Regions from separate parts of the Homo sapiens genome. Here all the other regions are linked to region 3. Evidence: fine-mapped expression QTL. A gene starts in region 3. Each other region holds a variant in brackets. All regions are shown on one strand. Distances are from middle to middle.

Region 1 (4,069 bases), 41 kb after region 3:
ACCTTTTTTCTTTTCTTTCCTTTCGGATGACGGCTGTGGAGATGAAATGAGGCAACATTGGTAATGGAATAGCACAAGGTAATTGTGTCTTCAACGTACCCTGTTGGCTGGCGATCCTGTGTCACTCTCAGATAGGTCCTATTCAGGAAATATTTTAGAAGCAAAAGGTAGCAGGTCTAAATCTGTGGAAAGTTAGATACTACTACCTCTATCCTTCAGCAAGAGAGACAAAAAAGATGAAAAGCTTATAATTCTAGCCCCAGTGAGTCTTCATCTCTCCAGTGGCAGATTCTTGAGCAGTCAGCCTTTCCCATGGCATGTGGAACCCTTCCATCACAGCCTCTGAGCCCACAGGTTTCAAAGTGAAGGAAATTGCTTTCCTTTTAAAGTTTAACCTGGATAGAATGCCAGATCTCAAATCTGACATTGTGTCATGGGTACTTTCCAAAGCAGATTTAACCAGTCTCATGATATTTAGGGTTTATATCCATTTATGTTGTTAGCACCTTAAATCTGGCTCTTACCATGTGAGCTAGCATAACTTTCTAGAAACAAAAATAAACTAAATATAAAAATAACTAGCCAGGGTGAGAAAGTCGCCCCCCAGGTCAGAGCTAAGACAGGAAATCAGCTGCCCTGTCCTGTGGCCTCCTCCAGTCCTTCCCCCAGCACACCTTTTGGGCATAGACAGTGACAGACAGTGCAGACACAGCAGGCAGCCGTGGCCTATGATCTTATGCTCAATTTCAGGGCTCAGATGGTTACCCTAAAGCTGATACGAGAAAAGCCAGGAATGGTGGAGTGTCTAATGCCAGTTTATCATGTCATCTCAAATACTGTGGAAGATCGGGGGAGGCGGGAAATGGCAGTAAGAAATAATTTCCTAATGTGATGAATGAGAAGAGTGAACTTTTCTAAAGAGTTAATGTACAGAGCATGAGCAGAGGATCCTAAAACTGGAAGGGACTCTAGAGATCACCCACCTACTTCAACCGTTAGTTTTACGTCTGAGGACAGAGGCCTAGAGGGTTTGTGGAACAGTTGGAAATACAAATGATAAGCTCAAAGGTAGTATGTAGTAGCCTCTTGATCCCGGTGGCAATGGAGAATTGAGATAGCCGGGAATCTGAAACTTCTACAAATACAAATCTAACCATGTTAAAAGTACCAAAACTTTTAAATTTTAACCCTTTTTTTGGAAACTTATGTAAAATGTCTCATTAACTTTTAATGATGGCTTACTTTTTTCTTAATCTTTTCTTTCATAGAGATTCTACTCTGTTCTTGATTAACTTATTATCACAGGTGATTTGAGGCTTTGGGATATCTTGAGTTGCCATCTTGCAAAAATTCCGGATGTATTAGCCTATTTGAGAGCTATGTGTACTCTTTCTCATGAAGAGAGAGTAAAATAATATATGTCCACCATCCTTTTTCTAAAACCTTTGTATCCAAATAAGTCTCTAATTTTAGATATTTTTACATTTTAGAAAGGTATTACAGCACAGATAGCATGTACTAGACACCCCCCCCACCACTACTCTGTACTTGTTCAACATGGTATCATTTCTTCAGCAAAACATGAATGTTTATATTAAATGGGATAAAGACTATATAAATAGCCCAAAGTCAGGTCAGATCAAGTTTTGCTGCCAAACAAACTTTGGTGTCATAAAAATAACTTGGTTTTAATAGGTTTTTAAATTTTGGAATTAGGGATAAGAAATTGTGGACCTGTAGGTAACATTTGTTGCAGTTTGCTGTATGCCAGATACCATGCTAAATGCCTTATACATTATCTCATTAAATCCTCACAATAACTTTATAAGGTAGATACGTCTGTTATTCCCATTTTGCAAGTGGGGGAAACGAATGCAAAGAGGAGTTAAGTAACTTGCTTGTGATCACACAGCTAATTAAATAGTAGGCTGTGAACCAAAACTGAAATTAACCAAATGCCTTTATG[T/C]GTCAGGCATTGTTCTGAGTACTTTACATGTTCTAATTCATTTGATCTGCATGCAACCCTTTAAGATAGTCGCCATTATTATCCCCACTTAACAGCTAAGAGGCAGCAGGGAGATTACATAACATGCCCAAAGTCCAGTCTGTTAGTGTGATTCCAGAGCATGTGTGCCCAGCCACTGTCTCATGTAGTGTGATTTCTTAGCAATGAAACAACCAACTGTGAGATTCAGCAAAATTAATTTCTACCTTAAAGGCCAGAGAAGCTCTCCCCACTGATTCCCTCAGACATTGGTTTTGATGTTGCCGTCCTTAGACTTGGATCTATTCTGTGCAGATTTTGGAATTTCTTTATATAAAATGATTTACTATATGTACCTTCACATCTGCTTGCAACTACTGTATCTCATTGCCCTGCCCTATTTATTAGTAGAGTGTGAATGAGCACTTGTCATCACTTCTAAAATGTGTACTGGCATGCCTGGGAGATGTCTGACTTTCAAACCCCACCTCCACCCCACCCCAGTAAACCAAGATCTCCTCAGGCCACCCTTGGCTATTTACCTAGAATAGAATCCCAGGCATAACCAACATTAAAAAACTGCATCTCTGATGTTAAAAGAGATGTAAATGCCAGTTTTCTTGTGGAATTATTCTATAAAACCATCTCATTCTCTGGCTAACTCTTTGGGTCACTATGTTGAGTCAGTGGGTTACACTAGCAGTTGGAAGATAGGTGCAGTCCCCTCTGCCTCTTGGCGTGAATGCTGCAGTTAGTAGCAGGGCTTTGCTCACCTCGAGGAAGCATTTGGTTTTAAAGATGATCTGACATTGAAAACAGCAAAATAGAGTGGAATTCACCAGTAGTTACCAAAGGTTTTGTTCTGAGATCCTGGATTACCATCACGTCTGGGAAAAGTACCCTTCCTTGTTGTTTAATGCAGAGAAGAACTGGCCAGTTTACCACCACTGAGATGGCCCACTTCAGTGAAAAGACCCCAGAATTCTTCTGTTGCTGGACATGTTTCACCAGCTACTCCTAGCCCTATATATCCAAGAGACATATGTAGTTCATTTGTCTATAAAAAAGATTTTGCTCTTGTAGTAAGCACCAGGCCACCATTGCCAAAGACAGGCCCTCTAAGCTTTTTACTCTCTGTGATGGAGGGTAGTTTTTCCTGTAGGCTGTCTGTGTTATGCTGTTTTGGAACATGCCAGTGTTTAATACTGTTCTGAATCATTGCTGAGTTTGCAACTGCAGTGGGTCAAGTGTCTTCACCAAAGCAACGCCTGCATTCAGTAGTACCCTGTCAGACCCTGCAGGAGAACTCGGCTTGCCTCTCATCACGTGCCTGTCTTCCCGCACAGGAATGTCCTAATGCCAGCGTGCCCCCAGGAGGTAGAAATGTCTTTACCTTGAGACTACTAAGGCAGCGTAATGCTGGTGTACCTTTTCTGGAAGCTCTGTGAAGCTCTATAGTTCGTACTTGCAGAACTGTTTTTTCTTTGTTTTTGCCTTTCTTCTTTGCCCTTCGTCTCATTCACTGTGGCTTCTAAACTCCAGAGCTGTCACCACCTCTGAATGTTCCCACTATTTCTGTTGCACTCCACTGTCCTTTTCTTAAATTTTCTAATTTTCCACTGTCCTTTTCTAAGTTTCTCCTTGTTCTAGTTCATTCCTTTGTCACTTTTCTGGCCTGACCATTTTTCTCAGATATTTTCTCTGTCCTTGTAGGCTCAAGAGCTACCTATTTGCAGCAGGAGGTATTTTCTTGTTTTTCTTCCTTTTACTTCCAGATTCAGTGCCATTTTGGTTTTCTGAGATGGTCTGACCTCTGTGAGTGAGGCTATGCTAATGCCTGACTGCTTATACTTCACCTGTACAGTACTAGTCCACACAATTCCTATGTGGAGTGTTGTTGGCTTGATTTTGAAGTATTGTTTGGGGTTCTCTGTAAATCAAAGTTTTATAGAAATGTGGCTATTCTACATTCGTTTTTGTTTAATACCAGCCACCCTGAATAACATGATTTTGAGAATCAGCATACTCCTAAAGTAGCCCATCATATGGCAGACACCTCAAGGCTAAGAGAAATATGAACGTTCT
Region 2 (4,069 bases), 48 kb before region 3:
GTGCCTAATTTGTGCCAATTACTTACGTAACAACCTTTATATACATTATTTCATTAAATCCTCACAATTACTCTGTTATCCCCATTTAAAAATGGGAAACTTGAGACTTAACCAACTAAGCCAACATCACACAGATATTAAATTGCAGAGCCATAATCCAAACAAACTCAGATCTAATTTCAAAGGCTTCTAGCTTCTGTTCTTTCCAGTGTATCATACTAAATTCATTCCTATGGTATTCTTTTTCTAGGCCTTGGGAAAATATAAATTGAATTTCTTCTAAAAATTTGTACCTAGAAACACAATCACAGAACGTTGGGGCTAGAAGGGTATTAGCGATCATTAAAAAACAGAAATCACAAAAATAAAAACCTATCCATCTTTGGAAATGGAACATTTAAGAACACAAACTGAAATTGCACTGGGGGAGGTGACTTGGTTTATTCAGGCAGGTGACTCAGTGTAGCAGGAGACTAGTACAGAGGATATCAAAATTAAACAAAAACAATAGAACAGAACAGCATGTGACATCTAATTAGATTGAGGTAGGCACATGCTGAGACCATACAGTGGAGCTCTGAGATGGTGGGCTGCTGAGGCAGTGCAATCTGCCATGGGCTGAGGGCTGCACCTCCTGAGGGAGGGATCTGTACATGTAGGTGTGTTTTTTAATTTTCTTAAATAAAACCAAAATGCTCTTGCAGCAGCCAAGACCCAAATAGGGATTTTTCCTTTCCTGCTGAAGGTTGTTCTTCTATTCCCACTATTCTGGCTCTCCTCCTAAGGGAAAAATTATATATGGACTAATTTGATTTATGCTACAGTGACATCATTCCCTGATAACAACTGCATATGAGCTAGTTCACACTAGGAAACACATGGTGCAACAACACACTATATTATTGTCAGTAATATTAGTATTAATAGTGGGGGTGGTGGTAGTGCAGTAGAAACAAAATAAAACAATGCATACTAACCACTGCACAATGCCAGGTATTTAATGACACTGAAAGAATGTGAACACCTTAGAATCAAGAAAAATGATAAAAATAGCTAGGGAATAAACAAAAATTAATTCAAGTCATGTCAGTGAAAATGGTGAATTAAGAATATCTGAAAAGTCTCTCCTCCATAAAAGCAGTAAGAACACTGGAAGAAATTGTCAGAACCAGCCATTTCTGAAGTGTGGAAATTAGCCAAAGAATTATAGCAGTAGGGAGAACATTTGTTCAAGAAAAATGGCTGACTCTCAGTAAGAAGAGAGAGCTCTGTGGCATTTGAGTTTACCCTATTTCCATCCTCACCTCCCCAGAATATTGGAAAAGCAACAGCCCACATCACAGTGGAAATCAGGAGGCTGGCAGACACTGGAAGAGCAGACTGGAGAACCTTCAAAGCCCTATTCCCAGAGATCTGTTATTAACTGACCTGTCTATGGTTCCCCTCTTGTGTGCTTGTCTTTTTTCTTCTTTTTTTTCCCCCTATACTTGTTTCCTGTATGACTGTGTGCCTGTCTTTACTTGGCTTGACTCAGAGCTCACCCAGGGCAAACTTCCTTTTCACTGGGGGCATTTGTTAAGCATTGGTTAAAAAAAAAAAAAAAATCAGAGGTCATTGCTGAAGATTGTGGCTGCCTGAAGACAAATACAAGGCTAACCAGAATGTTTACAAGGAAGAGCCAGGGAATGACACGTCCACAGAGGTTCAGCTATGTTCAGGGCTGTGTGTGTAGGCTAAGGTGGAGCTGTCAGTGGCGTGAGTGTTGAGGGTGTGGCATGCCCCACCATGCACACAGAACCCCCATGGAAGACGGGGAGATTTTTTTAATCTCAGGCATTTAAAGAATTCTCTGTCCAATCATTAGCTGTCCAGTACACAAAATGAGCAGAGACTTTACAGAATTAGTTCATAAGAGTCACATAGCAAACAAACAAACAACAACAATAACAAGTCCTCAGGAAGGAGAAGAATCTAGTTTTCTGAGTTGCCACATTATATTATTTAAAATGTCCACTGTTCAATACAAAATTAAGAAACATGCAAAGAAACAAGTACAGCCCATTCACAG[GA/G]AAAAAAAAAAAAAAAGCAGCCAACAGAAACTGTCCCTAAGGAAGCCCAGGCATTAGCTTTATCAGACAATAACTTACATCAGCTATTTTAGATATGTTCAAAGAAGTAAAGGAAACCTATCTAAAGAACTAAAGAAAAATATGAGAATGATGTCTTATCAAAAAGAAAATATCAATAAAGAAACATTAAGTCATAATAAAGAACCAAACAGAAATTCTGGGGTTAAAAAGTTTAATGAAAAAGAATGCATGGCCGGGTGCTTTAATCCCAGCACTTTGGGACGCCAAGGCGGGTGGATCACTTGGGGTCAGGAGTTCAAGACCAGCCTGAACAATATGGTGAAACCCCGTCTCTACTAAAAATACAAAATTAGCCAGGTTTGGTGGCGCATGCCTGTAATCTCAGCTACTTGGGAGGCAGAAGTGGCAGTGAGCTGAAATTGCGCCATTGCACTCCAGCCTGGGGAACAAGAGCAAAACTCTGTCTCCAAAAAAACAAAACAGAAAAAGAATTCACTAGTTCAACAGCAGAATTGAATCAGAAGAAAGAACTGGCAAACTTGCAGATAGGTTTATTGAGATCATCCAGTCTGAGGAACAGGGAAGAAAAAAAAAAAAAGAACACAGCCTCATGGTCTTGTGGGACACCATTAAGAGAATAAACATATACATAATGAGAGTTCCAAAAGGAGAGAGAGTGAAAGGAGTAGAAAGAATATTTGAAGAAATAATGGCCAAAAATCTTCCCAAATTTGATGAAAAACATTTATCTACACATCCAAGAAGCTTAATAAACTCCAAGTAGGAAAACCACAAGATATACACACTTAAGACACCTCATAATAAAACTGGTGAAAGCCAAAGATAAGGAATCTTGAAAACAGTAAGAGAGGAACAGCTCATCACAAGGAAAGGATCCTCAATAGTATCTGCTGATTTCTCTTCAGAAACCATGGAGACTAGAAGGCAGTGGGATGACATACTCAAAGTTCTGAGGGAAGGAGAGACAGAGAAGGGGAGAAAACTCTCAACCAGGAAGTCTATATCCAGCCGACTTCAAAAATAAAAGAGAAATTGAGACATTCCTAGGTAAAAACAAAATGTTTGTTGGTAGCATGCTTAACCTGCAAGAAACACTAAAAGAAGTCCATCAGGCTGATGTGAAAGGACACTAAACAGTAACTCAAGTTCATGTGAAAAATGAAGAGCATCAGTACAGTACTGAATTATTTGGTTTGTAATTCTTTTACTCCTATCTGATTTAAAAGAAAAACATATAAAGCAATAATTCTGTGTTGATGGGCACATAATGTGTGAAGATACAACTTGTATAATAATAATAGCACACAGGAGGGGAGAGAGAATGAAAGTTTTTGTATACTACTTGTGATGGTTAATTTTATGTGTCAACTGAGTGGGCCATGGGGTATCCAGATTAAACATTGTTTCTGAGTGTGTCTGTGAGGCTGTTTCTAGCATGTGAATCAGTGGACTCCATAAAGTATAAAGTAGATTGCCCTCCCCAATGTGGTTGCATCATTCAATCCTTTGAGTGCCTGAAGAAAACAGAAGGTGGAGGAAGAAGAAATTCATTCCTTATTTTCCTGCCTTACTGCTTGAGTTGTGACATCTCATCTCCTGCCCTCAGACTGGGATCACTGGCTCTCCTAGTTCTCAGACCTTCTGACTGAGAAGGTCTGAATTATGCTACTGACTTCCCTGGGTTGCCAGCGTGCAGAGAGCAGAACGTGTAATTTTTCAGACTCCTTAATCATGTCAGCCAACTCCTCATATATTGGTTCTATTTCCTTACAGATCCCTGACTAATTCATTAGTGAAAATGAAGCTGGTATTCATTTAAAATAGACTGCTATAAACTAGGATGTTAATTGTAAGCCCCAGGGTAACCACTAAGAAAATAATTTTAATTAAGAGAAATGACACGGGAATTAAAATAGCATATTAAAAATATTTAACACAAATGGAAGAAATGGAGGAAA
Region 3 (4,069 bases):
CTGGATTCATAAACTTAACGTAAACTGAAATACTAAAAGAAACACTACATGAGTCAAAAGTCCTTGTTTAAAACGTGGCATACAGCTTTGAAAAGCGAGTGATGTATTTCCTGAATGATGCTTTGTGTGCAACTGCTTCCAAATCAAGATTCATATTTTTAAATTACCCCCTGGAAGATGTCAAATCTCTCTCCCACCCTCTCCAGCCTAAAGAGAAAGGTGAGAATTCACAGGCAACAGGCTGGGGCGGAGGGAATGATCTCTCCCCATCCCTTTCCAGAGAACAAAACCCGATAAAGGCAGCTAGTGCCACTCTCATTGCCGACACCACACACACACAGAGGAAATTTAAACACTCACCCCACCTCTCCCTTCCCTTAAGAAGCAAACGACGCCAAGCTCTGCACCACGGTGGCCGGAACCAGCAAACGCTAACAGCCGGAGGCCGCCCGCCTCCCGGGCGCCTGCAGGCGGCGGGCACCGGGCGCCGACTCTCCCTCCTGGACCAGACCCACACCCGAGTCCACGCCAGCCCCGCAGCCCGGGCGAGCGAAGACAGCCGCGAAGGACCAAGGCTCCGGGGCGAGCTGTGGCGCCGCTCCGGCCGCCTCCCGGGGCGCGGCGCTGACCCACACCCAGCTGACGCCCGCACCTGAGGCGGCTGCCCGCAGCCAGCGAGAGGGCGCGCAGCGAGGCGGGCAGGGCAAAGTTACTCACTGGGAAAGCGCGGCTGCCCGGGCCGCGCACGGGCTCCTGGCGCCGCTGCTCGGCACCAGCTCCCGCTCTCCGCGGCCCGCTGAGGGAGCGGAGAGCCTGCCCGGCTCCGCTCCGCCAGGAATCGCCGCCGCCGCCGCCGCCGCCGCGGATTTCCTGGCAAAAAGCAAACTCCGGCCAAGACTTCACTTCTCAACCGCCCCTGCTGCCTTCCCGGGGGCAGCGCCAAGGCCGAGCGGCCCAACCCGCACCCGGGCCAATCGGAGGTAGCACAGGGCGGGAGGTGGGCGGACCAGAGGGCGGCTCCACCTATCCGAGAGCTCGGGAGGCGGGCCAGAAGGGACCCGTCACTCCCGGGTTAGAGTGAGACCACTCCGCCCTCGCCGCCCGCCTCCCCCACTCGCCCCGGGCTGTCCCCGCCGCCCGCCTGATTCCCCTGCGGAAGCCCCGCTGGCTAGGTGTCTGCGCGCACCCCCGGCCGCCGCCAAGAGTGGCACAGCTGGGGAAGGAGTGAACATCCAGAGGAATCGCGGGGCGGGGTGGGGGGAGGCCAGGAGAACAGGTGGCGCAGGGAAGCAGAAACGTAGTTGCGCTGGACAGCTGGAGTCGGGCAGGGTCGGGGCCAGCGGCGAGGGGACAAGAAGGGCCGATTCGAGAGGAAGCGCACCTGAGGGAGCACAGCGAAGGCCGGGACGCAGGGAGCTGGATGGAGAGCGAGCCTGGGCGGCGAAAGGTTGCCGAGGCGGGGGCTGGGCGCCTGGGAACAAAGGTGAGGGCGGGTTCCGCAGGTGAGGAGGTTTGAGGAGCCACTGGGGAGAAAGGGAAAAGGAAGTCTACAGCCGGAGAGGACGCGCTCTGGGGGTAGAAGGAATCCTAGGACGGAAAGGATAAGGTGGGAAACAGTTTTCTCCCAAACTCTCACTCCCCCAAAAGAGACATTTCTTTCTTGCCCTATTTTGACCCAGTTGAAAATGCAACTGCAAGCTCCCCGGTGAAACAAATACCGCCTTCAACCTTCGTATTCTGTGGTGACTCATCTCGCACGTGACCCCCCTCCCTCTTCAAGGTGTGTTGACCGACTACAGTTTAAGCCTGTCGTCCCACAAAAGGCCCGGGAGGGCCGGGGTCCCAGGAAGGGCCATCCTGGGTCAACACCGCCCCAGTTGGGAAGTCGGGCCGCTTTCGGACTTGCCACTGGGAAGGGAAGTGATTTGGGGGCGGCAGGTAAGGCCGCGCCCCTTCGCCATCACCTGGGGAAAGGTACCAGAGTTGAGCCGGGGCGCCCGCAGGCCTGTCTGGGCCTCGGGGTAAGGCGGCGCTGGCCCCGCCCCCTGCCCCTCCCGCCGCGAGTGGCCTCGCGTGGTCGCCCAGGTGAGCCGCGGGGCCGCGAGCCACCGCTCACCCCGCGTCGGGGCGGGGGCTGGGGGTGGAGCCTCATGCCCCGCCCCGCGGCTGGGCCCTGCCGCGCCGCTGCGGCTCCTCCTCCCTCCTTCCGTCCTCCGCGCCTTCCGTCGGTCGGTCCTTGCTTCCTGCTTCGCCTCCGCGCCTCGCGCTATGGGACAGAGCCCCCGATCCGCCAGCACCACCTGAGGATCCAGAAACCGCCCCAGCGATGGAAGAGGATCAGGAGCTGGAGAGGTAACGGCCGAGGAGGAGGCGGGCGGAGCGGGCCGCGCCCAAGGGGAGCGGGTGGCCGAGGGGCACGCTGCCTGGCCTGGCAGCCGGGGCCTGACTCGGGGCGCAGAGAAGAAGCATGGAGAGAGAAGTGGGGAGGAGACATGAATGTGTTTCAGTTGAGAGGCTGAGAGGTACACTAGCTATCAAGGAGGGAAGACAAGTTGGGAGACCAGAGTTAAGTATCCGAACTGCCCACCCCCGTTACAACAGCAGTGTGTAAAAATCACGCCCCGGGCCTCTGCTCCTGAGGACGGTACTCGTGCCTCTGTCCCTGTAACTACGGCTCACCTTCTTTCTATGTGCAGACTGCTCCTAAAGCCACTCTGTGCGCTGAGCTCTTTTTCTCCCTGCTGCTTGACTCCTGAACCTTCCATTCTCCTAGTTTCCTTCTCTTGCAAAATGGAAGCCGTAGTTGGGCCTGCACATTGATCATCTGTATCCTCTATTTTTATACTAGAGCAATCGGGATTTCTATGCCTTTCAACCCTCTCTTCATCCTCTAGCAGGACCAGTCCTATTCTAATCCTATCCCTTGCTTGTGACTCTACCAAAAAATATTTTTGCAAACACTTAAGTTTGTGTTTTTCTAAGAAAACTCCCCTTGTGGCCAGTGTGGATGGTCAAATGGAGCAGGGAAAAACTGGAGGCAATAAATTAAATATTTATTGATAGAGTTTGTGGAGGCAGGAAAATGAGAGGCGAATAATTCTGTGTAGCTGGAGTAGATTAATAATAATGTGTTGCAATGTGATATAGTAAATGAGAAAAAGCTAGTTACAAAACAATATTCAGTATGATCTCATTTTTATAAAAAATATGTGTGTAGAAAAATATCTGGATTGAAGACCTCAATGGCTGAAGGCGAGAGGAAGACAGCCCTGGAAATGGTCCAGGCAGCTGGAACAGATAGACACTGTGTGACATTTGTATTGCACGAGGAAGACCATACCCTAGGAAATTCTCTACGTTACATGATCATGAAGAACCCGGAAGTGGAATTTTGTGGTTACACTACGACCCATCCTTCAGAGAGCAAAATTAATTTACGCATTCAGACTCGAGGTACCCTTCCAGCTGTTGAGCCATTTCAGAGAGGCCTGAATGAGCTCATGAATGTCTGCCAACATGTGCTTGACAAGTTTGAGGCCAGCATAAAGGACTATAAGGATCAAAAAGCAAGCAGAAATGAATCCACATTCTAGTCCTTTATGCAGTATACAAGGAGAACTGTCCTGTAGGATATTCTCTTCCTGATGGTGCAGAACCCAGAATTAGAAGTTTGTGGTTACAGCATACTCTGTCCTTCAGAAAGGCGTGATTCTAGCTGTTGACCCCTTGCAGCTGTTGGAATCTCTGCAAGAACCTCTGTATTCTTCTAATAAATTCCCTCTTTTATTTAAACTAGTTTGACTGGTTTCTGTTCCATGCAACCAAATGGTCCTTGAGGATGACTTTTTTTCTAATTAAGCCAGCATTGAAAATGAGGAAACTGAGAATATCAGAGGCCTAGACAAGAACTGTGATCATGGGAATTAAAAGAAGTATATATCCATGTCTGTAGTTGGAGTGGTGGGGGTAAGGGAAGAGACAAAAACCATGACCCCAGTTAGATTGTTGTTTAAAAACAGAAGGAAAGAAGATTGGGGTGGGGACTTGGCTTCTTGCTAAACTTTTTGGC
Region 4 (4,069 bases), 22 kb before region 3:
CAAGGAACAACAGCTTTAAAAATTGATATTTCAGAAATAGTTGATGCACTCTATGTGGGTATATGCATGTAACGGGGGTGGATGGACAGAAAAGAGAGTCTGAGGGCTGGACTAGGTACAGAGAGAAAGCAAGGGTTCCTGAGTCAAATGATGTGACTAGACCCATGTGTCTGGGTAGGTAACTCTGGCAGCAGAGTTATGGCAATAATGAAGGGGGGTAAAACAAAAAGTTACTGCAATGGCCAAGATGACTGGTAATGAGAGCTTGAATTAAGGGAATGACTATGAACAGTCAAAGGAGGAATGGATTTGAGCAACATTTTAGGATACAAAAGTTTTAAAAGAGAGAAAGAAGAAAAGCGGGTAAGAAAAGGTGTTAGCATACCATAACCAGCATAGACATATCAAAGAAAAGAGAATTATAAGGGAACTTTCTTCATATTTCCCATCAAAATATCCCTATATTCCTTACAATTCAAAAGTAGTTTCTCATAAATATAAGAATTTCCTGGTATCTCCAAAAAGCCAAAATTTGATAATCCATTTACTATTTTACTCTATAAACTGTACTGTTGAGAAATAAAATGTCTTTCAATTTACAACAAATGTCCATTATCAGCAGGAGTTGCAGCCTCAGGCCCTAGCCTTCTGCTTTGAAAAACTGGGGCACTGTGCTAAACAATCTACAAAGCTTCTTCCAGCTCACTGCAGCACATCACTTAGCACATCCTTACCACACCACTTAGGAGTGGGTAAGGGTCTCAGCACTGTTTAAAAAAAAAAAAAAAAGACATGATCAACACCTATGGCCCACATCTGGCTGAAACATCAAAGTCCAATTACCTAAAGAAAAACAGTACAGCTAGAAAAAGGTTGAGATGTAGGCCACTAAAATTAGAAGTGAAAAAACAAGAACACAGGACAAGGACAGAATATTAGGATTTTTGTTATTAAACAAAAGGGGATGAGACCGATGTCACAAAATCATACACAGTCTAAATTGAACAGGGATTAACCCATGGGGTCAATTTTGACATGTAAAAGGAATAGATTGGGAGAGGGAATGATAATAGCTAACATTTATTTAGAACTTACTTTATATCAGGCATAGTGTCAACTGGGATGGAGAATTAACAGATTTAATCCTCAAGATAACCCTGAGATGGATACTATTCTCACATTCCTCCCCATTTTTCAAATGAGGAAACTGAGAGTAAGGCCCAAGACCTAAAGCTAGTGAGGGATGGAAACATGATTCAAATCAGGCAGTCTGATTCCAGAGCTATAATTTTAAAGTATATACTGTACCTAGTACTTACAGTATAGTAAATATAAGCAGGCTGCACAAACCAAAATATATACATACCTACACATATACAGTATATATATACACAAACATGTACATATACACATATATGTTTACATAAACAAGTAAATGACAGATCCAAGGGGAAGTTACCCTCTATTGTTAATTTTCCAGAAGAAAACATGTATTGCCATCTATATGGGGGCCAAAATGCTGGATGGACCTCATTTCTCAGTCTCACAAAAAATTTTCCACAATTCTGTATTTTCACTTTTAATTTTTACTGTAATAAAATGGAGGCTTCAAAATTGACACTACTTTTTGTATCCACAGAATTCAATAATTATATGCTTCTGTGTTCAGATATCAAAATCAATTTGAATGAACACAAAACTGAATAGCATCTCAAATTTTGAGCTGCCTATCAATCTCTCACAAAGCTTCTTGGAAAACATTCATTTATATTTGTCATGGGGCACAAAATTTGTACAGTGCTTTGAATGCAACCTTTGTATATAAAAGGGTCTATACAGAAAAGTTTTAACCAAGCTTGAAGCTTTTCTCCTAGGGCTTTAACATACAGATACCAAAAGGAGCCTTTGTTTACTCATTGGAACAACATTGTCTTCTAAGGCCACTCACCACTACTTTGTAAATTAGTGCCTCAAGATCTGGAATCCCACTTGGTTTTTCCTGCCAATGGCTCTAGGTGTTTGAACAATTTGGGATATAACTTCCTCTATCCTTATCTACTAGCATCCTCATTGCAATCTGAACTTACGATTCC[C/A]GTAAAAGAAATTCATTTACGTTACAGACAATATACTTATGTTCTAACCAGGTAAAGGTCAATTAGTAATCCATATTTACAAAGCTATAATTAGGAAGTAAGTTAGGAATAGACAATATAAAGTAAAACAATAACAAAGGTATCTTGTAGGAATAGAATAGCACCTGTACTTTGGCAACTCTTACTTTCCTGCAGATTATGTTAATGGAAGGGAAGAATTTCAAAGGCACCCCAAAGAGGCAAATATTTAGCAACTTTCTCTCAAATCAAACTTTTACACTTTGGATCTCAAACTCAAGAAACACACATCTAAATATTTAAACTTGTGGGTCTTGGTTAACAATGGCAGCAAATATCACCCAAAGAGCATTACGCCAATCCTGAAAATCTTTTGGTTGCTGTTTCCATGGAAACAGCCTAGATGAAGAAAACCTAAGAGTAAAGAATAATACATTTTTTAAAACCACTTTATCTTGTTTTCCCCTATCAGTTAGCCAGCATGGCACATAACTAACAGGCACATCAGTTATGTACCAGAAAATTCATGACTCATTCAACAAATATGTGTTGGTTATCTGCTGCATGCCAGGCACTGCACCAGAGGATAGGGTTACTCTGGAGAGCTCACAGAGCTCAGTCTAGCACAAAGACATTTACTAGCCAATGACACAAAATGATCGAGAAATTTCACATTCTTTTGTCATATTATGTTTTTGAAATTTTACATGTCAAAAACAGTGTACATTTTATACTTACATCACATTTCAGTTGGGACTAGCCACATTTCAAACCCAATGCCAACAAAAGGCTAGTGTCTTGTACTGGACAACATGGGTACAGATATTCCAATGGGGACGAAAAGCATGCATATCAGGAGTAAGTCGTTTCCTCAAAGAACATAAAATCTAACCAGTAGATTAGCCACTATACATGCAAAATATATATGGTACAGAAACATAACCGTAGAATTACTCAGTAGGTAAAGAAATCTGTAAGAAACATTAATATATAAGATACTGGGTGAGCAACTGTGTGTAGAATTCTTTCAGCTGCAAATGATGGAAAACCTGACTGAAAGTGGCTTAAGTGAAAAATAAGATAGGTGTTACTGACTCGGGGCTTTCTCCCAACTCTGCTTCCTCTAGATTGGGTTCATTCTCAGGCTTCATGTGGCAGCTAGTTCCCAGCAGTTTTAGGGGCACAGTGTCAGACCCCTTGTTCTGCTTCCACAATATTGCCAACAAATGCCCCAGAATTACATCTTCCTATTTCTAATGGCTGGCTTGGTCATGTACCTATGCTGAACCAATCACAGTAGCCAGGGACATGTGATGCTTTAATGGGCCAGACCTGGGTCACTTCTGTAACAAGGCATCAAGTCAACTTCCCCAGAATCACAAAGACTAAAGTGGCTTAACACTGATAAGCCTGATGTATGGCCTATCTTCCTTTAACCATATTACTTGACTGCTTCACTTGATACTCAAACAACCCGGAAGAGTCTTATAAAGTCCATTTCCAGTGATTTATTCCTTCATAGCTCAATTTATTCACTATTACTACAGGCTGGACATTATACTGATTGCTTTACAAGCAGTATTTCATTTAATCTTTCCAACAAACCCTATGAAGTAGTTACCATCACCATTACCATTTTATAGATGAGGAAAACGGGGATCCAAGGGATTAAAAACAACTAGGCTATCAGTGATTGGAATGGGATTCAAACTCTGGTCCATCTAATTCCAAAGTCCACGTTCAGCAGTACCTGAAATTAAGATATTTTTACTGTTCCCTCCCTCTTCCCCATCATTAAAGAAAAAATAAGAAAGACATTATATAAGCAATACGTGATGCAATTCCACAGAAACCACATGATTTATAACACCCTATCTGCAGACATTGCTGAGAAAACTGATGACAGCCCCAAAGAAAGACAACTGCATTAATAAACTAGAATGATACTTCTCTAAATT
Region 5 (4,069 bases), 47 kb after region 3:
AAAATGGGTTTTGTTGTTTCCTGTGCATTCTCAAACTCATTTATTAGATAGAACAATCTTTCTATATTTAATTTTTTTAATATATAGGTCTTAAGTGGTGCTTTAAAAAGAACCCTCACAAGTTAAAAATTAAGAGTTGTTTCAGTGCTAGATCTTACCAGCTAAAGACTTGTGATACCACTATATAGTATAGTTGTTCCAGAAATCTTCATTTTAAATAGAAGTGTTTACAATGCCTTTTTTCCCCCAGTATTGGTTTTCAATACCTGTTTTCATATACAATTACAAACCTTTCAAACCTGTATTCCTTCTTTATACTCAGGAAAATGTCACCAAGCACCCTCCTCCCCAGTTCACAAAAGGAAGAAGATGAAGATTCTGTCTCCCTGTTCCCCCTCCCCAGTTTTCCAAAGTGTCTGAGCATATGCCTGGCTGTCCTCAGATCATCACCATGCCACATCCCTGCTCCCTACTTCCTGGCAGCCAAGAAAAGCCCTTTCTACATGCTAGAAGGAAATACATCCAAAAAGTTAGCATTGGAGTGTTAGAAACTAGAATAGACCTCTCCGCCACCGAGCTGCTGTGTCACGCCCTCAGCCTGCTAGGGAGTGACAAGCCCAAGTCATTCTTGATCCACCCCTTCTCCCACCCCAGATCCCAGGGACTCATCCTGTGACTTTGTAACCACACTCATTCCTTTCAAACACAGAGGAGGAATTATTGCTTCATCTGACTTTATTCAAATCTAGTTATGTATTGGCCTAAATTATTTGTGCAAAATTTGAAATGTTTTTTATTTAAATATTAGAAATAGCACAAAGTCATGGAGTTTTTAAAAATTGTTATAATTAAGTAAAAATAAAGCTGAATTGTGTCATTTGTGTATGCATTCTGTATTTATTCATTATTTATTCATTTATTTTGTTTGAGAAGGAGTCTCGCTCTTTTCCCCCAGGCTGTAGTGTGATGGCACGTATCTCGGCCCACTGCAACCTCCGCCTCCTGGGTTCAAGCGATTCTCCTGCCTCAGCCTCCTGAGTAGCTGGGATTGCAGGTGTGCGCCAACATGTGCAGCTCATTTTTGTATTTTTAGTAGAGAGAGGGTTTCGCCACGTTGCCCAGGCTGGTTTCGAACTCCTGAGCTCCGGTGATCTGCCCGCCTCGGCCTGCCAAAGTGCTGGGATTACAGGCGTGGGCCACTGCACCCAGCCTTGCATTCTGTATTTATAACACACAGACAAGTTCATTATCCTTTAAAAGGGAATGACTGAAATGAACACATTTTTGTACTCAAAATTAAGGGAAGCTTTTTAGCCTAACTATACTTACCTTTCTTAAGTTGTGTTAAACGACAGTGGCCTACAAAACCATTTTCCCTTTTAAAAGCACTGTTCTATTTCAGAAAAGTTTATTGGAATCTTTAGGCTTCTATCAAGAGCAGCCATAATTTCCAGTCTAAAAATGTCAAGAGAAAATTATCTATTTTTTATTCCCTATGTATACAGTAGATGTTAGGGGAGGGATTGGTCATGAGATACATTCACCAGCCACCTCCTGTTTCTGTGGTTAACATACTGGCGCTGCCAAGAGCTCCCATCCGCCTGTGTTACTATCTGATCTCCATTGTAACTATATTTAGAGATCACAAAGCCTGGGATAGAGGTTAGAGAAACTGAATCTTAGTCCTGCCTCTGCTTCTGGCTAGCTTCAGGCCTTATCTGGGTCACTTTTCTGGACTGCATTTTTTCATCTGCAAACTAAGATGTTTGGAGTGAGTCTTTAACTTTCAATAGGTAAAGAAAGAAGTGCAAATAGCCCTAAATTTTAGGAACTGCGTTCCATGCTTCCACTAGAAACCATTAAGACTTAAACACAAATGCAACTTGACATAATTTTTTGTTTTATCTCATGTTAGAAAACAGCCTGTAAGAAATATAAGCAAAAAGCTATGGTTCCTAGCCATATCTGGTCACCTATTGGTGGCTAGTCTTTCTGAATCGCCCATTTATGAAGGGGGAGGGACTTAGGGTAGGTCCCTCTGAGTAGGCAGTTTATAAATTTTTATTTGGAAACACATGTTATAAATCTCAGTGGGTTTTACTTTAGGGCTCAGCAGGCTAAGCACTAAAGGACATTTCCTCAGAGCTGATTCTGGAAGATGGCTGTGGAGTTTTGAATTTCCCTGTGGACTTCTTTTTTGCTGAGAGGTTGGCAGGGGGGC[A/G]GGGGGCACATTGGCACATCTGCTTCAAAGCATAAAAAATGCTTTGGGGTAGCATTTATTCTTTCACTGATTATTCAAGTGACTTAGCATGGCACTTACATATTTATTTATTTTTTGAGATGGAGTCTCGCTCTGTTGCCCAGGCTGGAGTGCAAAGGCACGATCTCAGCTCACTGCAACCTCTGCCTCCCAGGATCAAGCAACTCTCCTACCTCAGCCTCCCGGGTAGCTGGGACTACAAGGCATGTGCCACCTGGCTAATTTTGTATTTTTAGTAGAGACGGGGTTTCACCATATTGGCCAGGCTGGTCTTGAACTCCTGACCTCAGGTGATCTGCCCACCTCGGCCTCCCAAAGTGCTGGGATTACAGGCGTGAGCCACAACACCCAGCCCATATTTTTACAATTAGTTACATATTCGTCATTCGTAGAGGTCATGCCATCACCTTAGAATCATAAAGAGTATCTGGTGGATAAGCAGTGCCTATTTAATAGACATTATATGAGGTGGGTTCCTGATGAAATGAAGCCTCATCACTTTCCTAAGGAGTGTTCTGTGTCCTGGGATCCAGTATAGAGGACTCCCCTCCCCAGAGGAGCTGAATCTAGGAAACCCATAAATATTCTCCCTATGAGGTGTTTGTAGGCTGTATTGGAACTGTGTGGACAGTAACAGTGATTGTCTATCACCTGTGGCCAAACACTGTTATATCTTTTACCTGTGTTCAGGTAGTTATCCCACAACCCTATGAAGAAGATGCTACTCACCTTCATTTTACAAATAAGGGAAACTGAGGATAGATTAAAAACTTTGCCCAAAATCACAGAACTAGGAAGTGGCAGAAATGCTAGCTGAAGCCAAGACTCTCTGAATCAAAAACCCATACTCTTTCCTGTACCCTATGCCAAACTTAATCCAAACTCGGCTCCCTCAAAACACAGGACGGGAGGGTCGTCTCAAGGTGTATATGCTCCATGTCTTCCCAATTTAAGAACCTAAAGAACTTTTATAATCACTGCATTTTGCAAGCCAAAATCTACTCCCATAGATCAGAACATGGAAGCCCCAGCAAAGAACATTTGTATGGGGAACTGTTTCCCAAGGGCCAGTGTAGACAGCGATCTGAATCCAAGAGAAAAACTCTCACAACTCTTGTGAAATGGTTAAATGGCAGCTAATGGAATATAGCTATGGAAAACTAAAACCTCAGGTGAAGCCAGTATTCTAGATCTTCCATGTTTGAATTTTTTTTTCTCCATCCATAAGAATAGTGAGATTTGGGAGTAAAGAAATCCTTGGGACGCGGCCTCTTTGATACCATAGAAAACATTCTATAATCCAAGGAATTTGAGAAACTATCTCTTGGAAAGCCATGTCAGCAGATCATAAATTGAGCCTCACCCATGGCTCTTCTGAGTCTAGATACTGAGAAGGTTAGTTTGCCAAGTGGAAACTCTTGTTCTCAACATGGAAAAGATGCCCAGGAAGCATGCCCTTTTACACACAGGAACACATAAAGAGGAAAGTAAATTAATCCCCATTAAACTGGCAAGGCAACACTGAAGGCAGAATTCAAAGGCAACTTATACATTTTTATTTGGTAACCCATGTTATAAATCTCAATGAACATTACCATGAAAAGGCCAATAATAAACATGGATTTTGGAGCATCATTAATAGTAAGATGAAAGATGAACTATTTCTCCCATCCATATAGTCCTGTAATATTCACCTTTGGTTTCGATAACTTATAAATACTCTCTATGTGAAACAAATACCAGATATAACACATCATATGAAACACCTGAGGGAGACATTTCTCCTCCACATAAATGTATAGCCTGCCC
Region 6 (4,069 bases), 70 kb before region 3:
CAACGTGATGAATGAAATATGTCCAATGAAATAACTCAGGTTCAGTTTCTGTCATCAGATTAATGAAACATAGCTATAAGTGACAAGACAGTAAAGGTAACATTTCAGTCTAGATCGGGATTGGCAAATTTTTTCCGTAAGGGGTCAGATGGTAAATATTTTAGGCTTCAAGACCCATACAGTCTCTGTCATGATGACATCAACTCCGCTGGTGTAGTGTGGGAGCCAGAGAGTACATAAACCAGTAAGTGTAGCTGCACTGCAATGAAACTTTATTTTCAAAAAGATAATGGGCTGGATTTAGTGCTGACCCCTGACCCCTGGTCTAGATCATGTCCAATGTCATCAACATGAATCACATCATTAATTAGAACAAGACTCACTTTAATCTTCCATCATAATAAGCAGGAGTTCCCAAGACAATAGTTTTAATGAAAAAAGGCTGATTGGTGTGGTTCTCTTCATATCCACCAACGATACTAAAGCCCCAACTTCCCAAGTAACTTCTTCGTAAAACTATATCGTGGCAGCTATGAAGTGTGCTATAAACAAACAGAAAAATAAAGAAAAAATTAACATGGAGGCTTTTATAGCCGCTTATTTTTGTTATAACCCCATACCATGTTATATTTACCACTCTTGGAAAAAAGAAAAAGGGCTATTAATAAATAGATTATTTTGACAATCCATCTTCTAGCAGAGACACAGTCCTAGGTAGACTCAAATTTCTCCAACTTTTTTCAGTCTTCCCAAGTGAAGACACACACACACACATACACACACACACACAAGTAGAGAACCTGGTTACAAATTACACCTCAGTAACCTGTACAAAAAGGTCATGTACCTATATCAGCTCACTGCATTGTCAACAAAGTCCTCAATTCTACTAATCACTTTTATCTACAAGAGGAATTACAATGTGGGATGAAAGAGGTCTAGTACTGCCAAGCCCAGCATGCAAATGAAAGAAGAAAAAGATTAGGAACGCAGCTTCCGAAAAGAAGGCAGATAATTATCTCTCTTTTCTAAAGGTCCTATAGGCTTTTAGTCTACATGAGGAGTTATTTGTTATTTTCTCCTTTACTTAGGATGTTTTCATTTTAAGGGAGACTCTAATTGCCAAAATAGAGAAATCAATCTGAAAAACACTAACAAAAAATCTTTTTCTTTTTTTTTCTATCATAGACAAGCTGGGTACAGCGTCATGTGTCTGTAGTCCCAGTTACTGGGAGGCTGAGACAGGAGGATGGCTTGTGCCCAGGAGCTTGAGGCTGCAGTGAGCTATGATCATGCCAACTTGGGTGACAGAGCAAGACCCCATCTTTAAAAAAAAAGAAAATATATACACATCTATACACACACATGCATATATAAATGTATCATAGACACTGAGAAACTACAGTTAGAATGCTACTGCCAGATTGCAGGATGTGTCCAGAGAGGGAGAAAAAAAAAATGTACTTATGTTTCCATAGCTCTATGGATTTGGGAACAAGCAGTGAGTAAAATCTTAAAAACAAAACAAACAAAAAAAGCACACCTAAATGATAAGGAAAAAAAAACTCTTCATAATAAATAAATATCTTTCATCTTTAGGTGAAACTGGATCTAAATGCACGGAAGGCAAGGTTTCCTGTTTTAAATCCATAATAAAATAATAAATATACATAATATAAATAATTAATTTTAAAAATCCTGTTTTATTATTTCTTAATAAAGCCAATTCTATAAAGCAATGTTTACCATGCCAGAACTTCTCATCTTATCTAGTTTCCTAGCTCACTGATAAGAAAGGCTTCTGGGATGGAACAAGGTCCCATGCACTGGCCTGGATTTAAAGGGACAGTGTTGGTTATTTTCCTAATGCTGCATCTTCTGAAACAAACAGCTTTCTTGTATACCCCAGCAAATCGCAGTGGAAGAATCTCCCTTTTCACGAAAAGCAGAGCAGAGCTGCTACACTATGCCGTGTGAAACCTGCATATAGGGGCCACCTGCACCCACTGAGGAGGACACATGGCTGTTGAATATAGCTTTGCATTCAACAGAGACCTCCATACACACATTGAATAGTAGCCTTTTATCGACAGGTATTCTTTCAACACAGGTGGGCTCAAAAACAGATTTTACTATACT[G/A]TGTATTTCTCATCTAAAATCTTTGCTATTATGCCTGGCACACCAGAAAATGCTCTGAAAAAAAGAGGTCAATGTGCCAACCTCCAAACTAGACTGGTATATCAGATAAGGAAAATTAAAGGAAGCACTAGGGACCAAGTTTCTCCAGGACGCTGCTGCTCTCTGCCTGCCCCATCATTAGAGGTGCAGACAAGCTCTGAGGTCTGCAACGTGCTGCCCAGCCACTGCACGAGTAGACCACTTCTCACCCACTATGCGCAAAGCGCCTTGAAGCACTATATAAATGCTAGTTGTTGTTATAAATGTATCCCACGAGTCAGGTGGCTCAGAAAATAGCAAATTCTTATTGTTTTATTTTAAAGAATCAATAATTTTCATACTTGGTCAAAAGTCAAAATGCTTCATAGCTTAGTTTTAGGATTCTTAGGTACGGTAAGAATCTAAACGGATTAGACAACAAATGATGATAGGAACACATTCTTCCTATCTCAAATGTCAAACAACAACCGCGGAAAGGAATGTACCCTGGGATGCCACTGGAGGTTCCATGTGCTTCTGTGACCCCGACACTGACCAACCACAGCATATCTTGGCTGGTCACATTTATAAAAAATAAAAGTGAAGCAGCCATTCTTGAACACTAATGGTTTGGCTTAATAGACTCTTGTATCCAATAAAAATTGAGTTTTAAATGCCACCCTTTTTAGCGAGAGTTAAAATAAATTTAAAAAGGTGTTAAGAAAGGCTTCTGGGATGGGGGGAAGCCCCAAGATTGGCCTGGGTTTTCTGATGAAAAATGCATGAAGTCTCAGCACATAGCGGAATGAGTGCTGGTAAACGACAACTTTTCTAAGCAAGAGGCTGGGTTATCCAATCTCATGGCTAGCCCACTGAGGAGCCTTGACAGGAATGGACACAACTGCTTTCTTTGTGTACCTTTTAAAGTGTAATATCCTAAGAAAAATTATCCTTTTCTTTTGTAATTTGATTTGATGTTGCTATTTTACTGAATTAAAGCTTTTTTTTTTATCCCAACGAGTAAATTTATCATGCTACACACTGATAAGGGCTGCAAGCATGATTATGATTTCCATAAAGCAACAAGAAAGCGCTCAGTACCTGGGAAGCCCAAGCCACATGACCCATGATGGGGACCAACTGGCATCATACTCATTTTCGCTGAAAGTACTCGGCTGCTCCTCCGCGTTCTGAGTCGCCTCCTCAACAATCTGGACCTCAAGTGCTTTAAGGGCAACAGCAGGGGACGCGGCACTGGCTTTCAGCATTGCAACTGCCTCACTGTGACTTAAATTGGTCAAATCAATGCCGTTGATATTTAGCAACACATCACCTGTTCAGATGAAGAAACAAGAAAAATGAGCTGAGCCACTGAGTTTTCACCTGCAAATCTTGTTGTTTATAAACTAAGCAACAAAAGTTAGTTCCCCCAACTCTGATGAGATAAGGTATAATAATAAATGGCATTTATTATTTCTTTGTAATTTTTATAATATTGAGAAGAAACCCAATACACAGAAAACATTCCATAATTTTAAAATAATGTCATAATACATAGAAAAAAGTGTGGCCTGAGGCACCTTGACATGATTGGAAGTTCGAATCATCAGTCTGAGTTTAGCTGTGTACAGGCCCTGGGCAGGTTCATTTCTCTTCTTAAGAGTTTCAGAGATTTCTACAATTCTGTCCAATCAAAAATCACTTGATCCTTTGCCCTTAGAAATAAATCTTTAATGTATTCTGCTTTATATTTACACAGTTCTATACATAAGGACAGCCCTGTATAGTTTATTCAGGGCAAACATCAGAATATGTACAAAGAAGCTATCCCTGGGCCCACATGAAGAAATGAAACTTGCGGTTTGAATGTCTTCCCTGTTTCAGGAAGAAAAGAACTGTTGCTCTGCTAAGT
Region 7 (4,069 bases), 58 kb after region 3:
CATCGTTAAGTGACACATGACTGTATTTGACAAAGTGCTCAACATCGTCAGTAATCAAGAAGTTGCAAATTAAAACCAAAATGGGATAGTACACACCCAACAGAAGAGCTAAAATTAAGGAGACTGACAACTCCAAATCTCATTGAGGAGCTAGAGCAACCAGAATTAACATATATTGCTGGTGGGAGAGTAAAATGGCATAATCACTTTAGTAGTTTTTTTTTTTTTGTCTGTTTGTTTGTTTTTTGAGACAGAATCTCACTCTGTCACCTAGGCTGGAGTTCAATGGTGCGATCTCGGCTCACTGCAACCTCCATCTCCTGGGTTCAAGCGATTCTCCTGCCTCAGCCTCCCAAGTAGCTGGGATTACAGGCATGTGCCACCACACCCAGCTAATTTTTGTATTTTTAGTAGAGACGGGATTTCACAATGTTGGCCAGGCTGGTCTTGAACTCCTTACCTCAAGTGATCCGCCCACCTCGGCCTCCCAAAGTGCTGGGATTATAGGCGTGAGCCATCTGGCCCAGCCTTAGTAGTTTCTTATAAAACTAAACATACACCTACCTCATGACCCAGCAATTCCATTCCTAGATATTTACCCAAGAGAAATGAAAGCATTTGGTCACGGTAAAACTTGTACAAAGTGTTCCTAACATTCATAACTGATAATTGCTTCAAAGTGGGAAAGCCCAGAATGTGGCATGTACATAAAATTGTAGACCTGATGAAGATGCCATTCAGATGCCCCTCGAGAAGGATGGGCTGACCAGCTGCAGGGAGTGCAGTCAGCAGGTGGCTTCCAGCTCCCAGCTCCTCAACATCAGTCTGAGCTGCAGAGAAAAACATACCCTTCTGGGCGTGGCCTGCATCTGGTGACTGAGCAAGGTGGAGAGATAAAAGCACGACTGTTTCGGCTCCACATGGGAAACTGGCAGGCAGGACTTCCTCCGAGTTCCCCACTGGTTTGGCAAGGCTCTATCTGGCCTGCAGGGCAGTTCAACCTCTTCATCTTTCTCAACTTCAATTGTGCTTCCACCTGCTTCCTTACACAGGTGTTGATCCCTAGTTAGCTTCTTGCACCCTAAACTCTGTCTCATCATCTGTGTCTAGACAATCCAGTTTGCTGCAGTTGTGTCTGGAAAGAGCAGGCAATCAAATGGGATTTTGGAGCTGAATCATTCACCGCCCAGCTAGCAATGTGGACACCTTGCACAGATGGTGTTTCCATTGTTAAAACTTCCACTGGTGGTGAATCAGGAGAGTGGACTTCTGGAAAGGGATGCACTGCAGAGGTGATGAGTCAGGTGCTTGAGAATTCTGGAAGAAATAGTAGATACAAGGATAAGGGGATTCTATGGCTATTGCCTGGTGCTAAAATGACTTGGGAAGCATGGAAAAAGCAATGGCCCCTGCTGAGTGAAACTGAAATGTCATTATCAAATAGCTGGTCTTTCATGAACTTTTACCTCTAGTCATAGCTGTATTAGGAAAGAACTCAAGTTCCAGGTATTTGGGGATAGAGCCCCTCTCTGCCCATAAAGTGCAGCAATAACCCTATTTCTACTTGTTAATTAGGAGCAATCACCTCAGCAAACACAGCACCTCCACTTTATGCCAGTTGATTCACTAGCATCAAAAGCCACAATGGCCGTGTGGTTGTCTCACTGGACCCATTGTTGAGTCCCCTCTAGAAGCCTGCCTTCTTTGTCAGGCCTCTAAAGAAGCAGGACCTAAACCCAGAATAGGAAGCAACATTTTACAAGTGAGTCCTTATGCGTCACAGTGGTAGGTACCACTCCTACTTTCACCCCTTGATTCTTGGACCCATTTTTTCTGCTTATGCACCATAAGAAGAGAAACTGCACCATATATTGGCTGTTGTATAGAACAAAACCCTAACTTCACTTGTAAATCTCCAAGTTGATATTATGAATGAGTCATCAAAAGGCCATTCTACCATTCTATAGGATGAGTGACTTCTAGCTGATGGTGTTTATTCTAAGAACAGTGAATCCTTTGAGCATATTGAGTCACCTTTTTGCTGTCAAATAAATTTCTGGCAGATGCAACATTGTAAGGAATAACATGATGGTGAATAAGACACAAAAAATATCCATGGATGGAGATGCTAGATGCATGGTGGACAGGAAAGGCAAATCTATATTCAGAATGTCTGCTTCAAAGAGGATAAATTACTGCCCTCTCCATGATGTAAGGAGTCAAGTGCAATCAATGAGCCACTAGGAGATTGGCTGGTCCCTTCAGAGCATGGTGCTAAATGGTAGTTAGCAAGTTGGATACTCTGCAGTGGTAGTGGTAGTCAGATCAGCACAGTGGCAATATCCACGGATGCCTAATCTCCAGCCCTGCCACCATGACCACATTGTACACAAACTCCTCAGATGTAGTTCACTGAGGTCTACACAGTGAGTCATGTTGTCCATTTCGTTAGTGAGATCCTCTTCTACCATGGGCTCCCTCTGGCAAACATTCATGTAAGATATCAATTTATCTCAC[G/A]CTGTGCATTCTAAGAGGTTTGGCCATATATCTCTTGCGCAAACTTCCTTGTCTCTAATTCTCTGATCTTGTTTCTAGCATGTCTCTGACCATCTGGCCAAATCATTGTCCAGCGACTATGAGTCAGTATAGATATGCACCTCTGACTTCTTCTTCCATTTAAGCTAGACAACCAATGTCCTGCTAGATGTTCTGCCCACTGGGAAGATTCCTTTCCCCAGTGTCCTTCAGGGCCACCCATGAGTGGGGCTGTAATGCTATAGCCATCCCTACAACCAGCAGAAGAAAGCTGTAAATGAGACCAGAGGGATGAAGGAGATGAGCAGGACATCAGGAAGTCTGAGCCACTTCTTCTGAATCCTACCTGTCAGGTGGTGCCTGATCTTCAGGATCCTGCCTTCAGGACCTGCTTTTGCCTGATCCCATATGAACACTTGGTTTGAAGGTAAAGTGCTGCTTCATATGCCCAAATGTATGATGTTTGGATGACATCATAATGGGCAGTTCATAATGAGCAGTTTGAGTCATATGTTCAGTTAATGCCCTATAATCAAGTGTTTAGTCCCCACTCAGACCCAATAGACATCTAGGAACTGTTTCTCAAGAGGAGATTAGCTATTTGCTCAGGAGTGTATAGCTTCTTTCAAACACTGTAACTGGAACTACAATTCTTCCATGAGTTTGCCCAGGGCTCAATAGAGTATCTTCTACTTCAGACATATTGAGTATCACTAGATTTGCTAGATCATAAAGCCTGAGGATGATAGTCACATTGTGCATGACCCAGCTAGGAAGCATTCTCTTGCTCTTGATGCCACTCAGACCTGCTAGCTTTACATATTTCTTGGTAAATGGATAGAGAATCACACTCAAATATGGCAGAGTAGGGCACTATGGAATTTGTTGTCCCAGTCCAAGCACATTAAAACAAAAGAATTACTTAAAATACGTCAAGACAACAGGCATAGACTTGAACTGTTCCAGGCAAATAAGTCACTCTAGACATATATTGCCTCCAAGATTCAAAGAAGCCCAGCAAGCATTTTGATTTTCTTTAAGTGGAAGAGGATGCAAACTGTTGTGTTACCCAGTCAATGAGCTATGTTCAAATTTTAATTATAGTCTTTCTATTCTCTCTGTGGTTCAAGGGTTTTTCCTGCAGGAAAACAAATGCAGTCTCAGTGTGAGAAAGGTAAAGGGATTACCCATTGGCATCTATGACTGAGTAAAGACTACCTTGAAGTCTTGAAAAACTGCATGAAGATACAGGAAAAATAACCTCAGGACTACCTGTATGAGCTGGAAAACCAGTCAGCTAATATAAACTGTATGATACCTAAGTCCTTCTCTTGCCTACAATTTAAGTTTGTTGTCGCTTTAAGTCTTGTTTTCCTTCTATTCACCTTGTCCACCTCCCAGAGGTTTCTCTTACACTGAGGATGAACAACTACAGCCCTTGGAAAGGTATAATTACAGATAATGAATATATACATATAATGAATGGATTTATATATCCATAGAGAGAGGAGAATGATGAGGGAAAACACCTTTT

The links. PIP is the estimated chance that this variant, and not a neighbour inherited with it, causes the effect.
Region 1: its variant is fine-mapped to the expression of POLR1D in whole blood (TOPMed, PIP 0.97).
Region 2: its variant is fine-mapped to the expression of POLR1D in monocytes after muramyl dipeptide (Kim-Hellmuth 2017, PIP 0.95). The same link has a PIP of 0.9 or more in monocytes.
Region 4: its variant is fine-mapped to the expression of POLR1D in whole blood (INTERVAL, PIP above 0.99).
Region 5: its variant is fine-mapped to the expression of POLR1D in whole blood (INTERVAL, PIP above 0.99).
Region 6: its variant is fine-mapped to the expression of POLR1D in whole blood (INTERVAL, PIP above 0.99).
Region 7: its variant is fine-mapped to the expression of POLR1D in whole blood (INTERVAL, PIP above 0.99).

What each region holds. Positions count from the first base shown.
Region 1 is chr13:27,660,838-27,664,906 of GRCh38, forward strand. It overlaps a transcript of POLR1D not described here. Among named protein-coding and RNA genes, the nearest start is that of POLR1D, 41 kb to the left of the region's middle. The variant T/C (reference allele first, on the strand shown) is at 1,967.
Region 2 is chr13:27,571,856-27,575,924 of GRCh38, forward strand. The region is part of intron 2 of LNX2 (ligand of numb-protein X 2); the gene reads right to left. Among named protein-coding and RNA genes, the nearest start is that of LNX2, 47 kb to the right of the region's middle. The variant GA/G (reference allele first, on the strand shown) is at 2,069.
Region 3 is chr13:27,619,658-27,623,726 of GRCh38, forward strand. POLR1D (RNA polymerase I and III subunit D) reads left to right here and starts at 2,235. Exons shown (of 2, transcript NM_015972.4): 1 at 2,235-2,352; 2 at 3,218-3,792. The coding sequence starts at 2,327. The coding sequence ends at 3,593. It overlaps LNX2 (ligand of numb-protein X 2), which reads right to left and starts at 872. Exons shown (of 10, transcript NM_153371.4): 1 at 718-872. RefSeq lists silencers at 422-1,311, 1,932-2,491 and an enhancer at 900-1,628.
Region 4 is chr13:27,597,432-27,601,500 of GRCh38, forward strand. All of the region lies in intron 1 of LNX2 (ligand of numb-protein X 2), which reads right to left. Among named protein-coding and RNA genes, the nearest start is that of LNX2, 21 kb to the right of the region's middle. The variant C/A (reference allele first, on the strand shown) is at 2,094.
Region 5 is chr13:27,666,535-27,670,603 of GRCh38, forward strand. It overlaps a transcript of POLR1D not described here. Among named protein-coding and RNA genes, the nearest start is that of POLR1D, 47 kb to the left of the region's middle. The variant A/G (reference allele first, on the strand shown) is at 2,222.
Region 6 is chr13:27,549,950-27,554,018 of GRCh38, forward strand. It overlaps LNX2 (ligand of numb-protein X 2), which reads right to left. Exons shown (of 10, transcript NM_153371.4): 8 at 3,259-3,490; 9 at 384-542. Among named protein-coding and RNA genes, the nearest start is that of LNX2, 69 kb to the right of the region's middle. The variant G/A (reference allele first, on the strand shown) is at 2,140.
Region 7 is chr13:27,677,633-27,681,701 of GRCh38, forward strand. No RefSeq gene overlaps it. Among named protein-coding and RNA genes, the nearest start is that of POLR1D, 58 kb to the left of the region's middle. The variant G/A (reference allele first, on the strand shown) is at 2,518.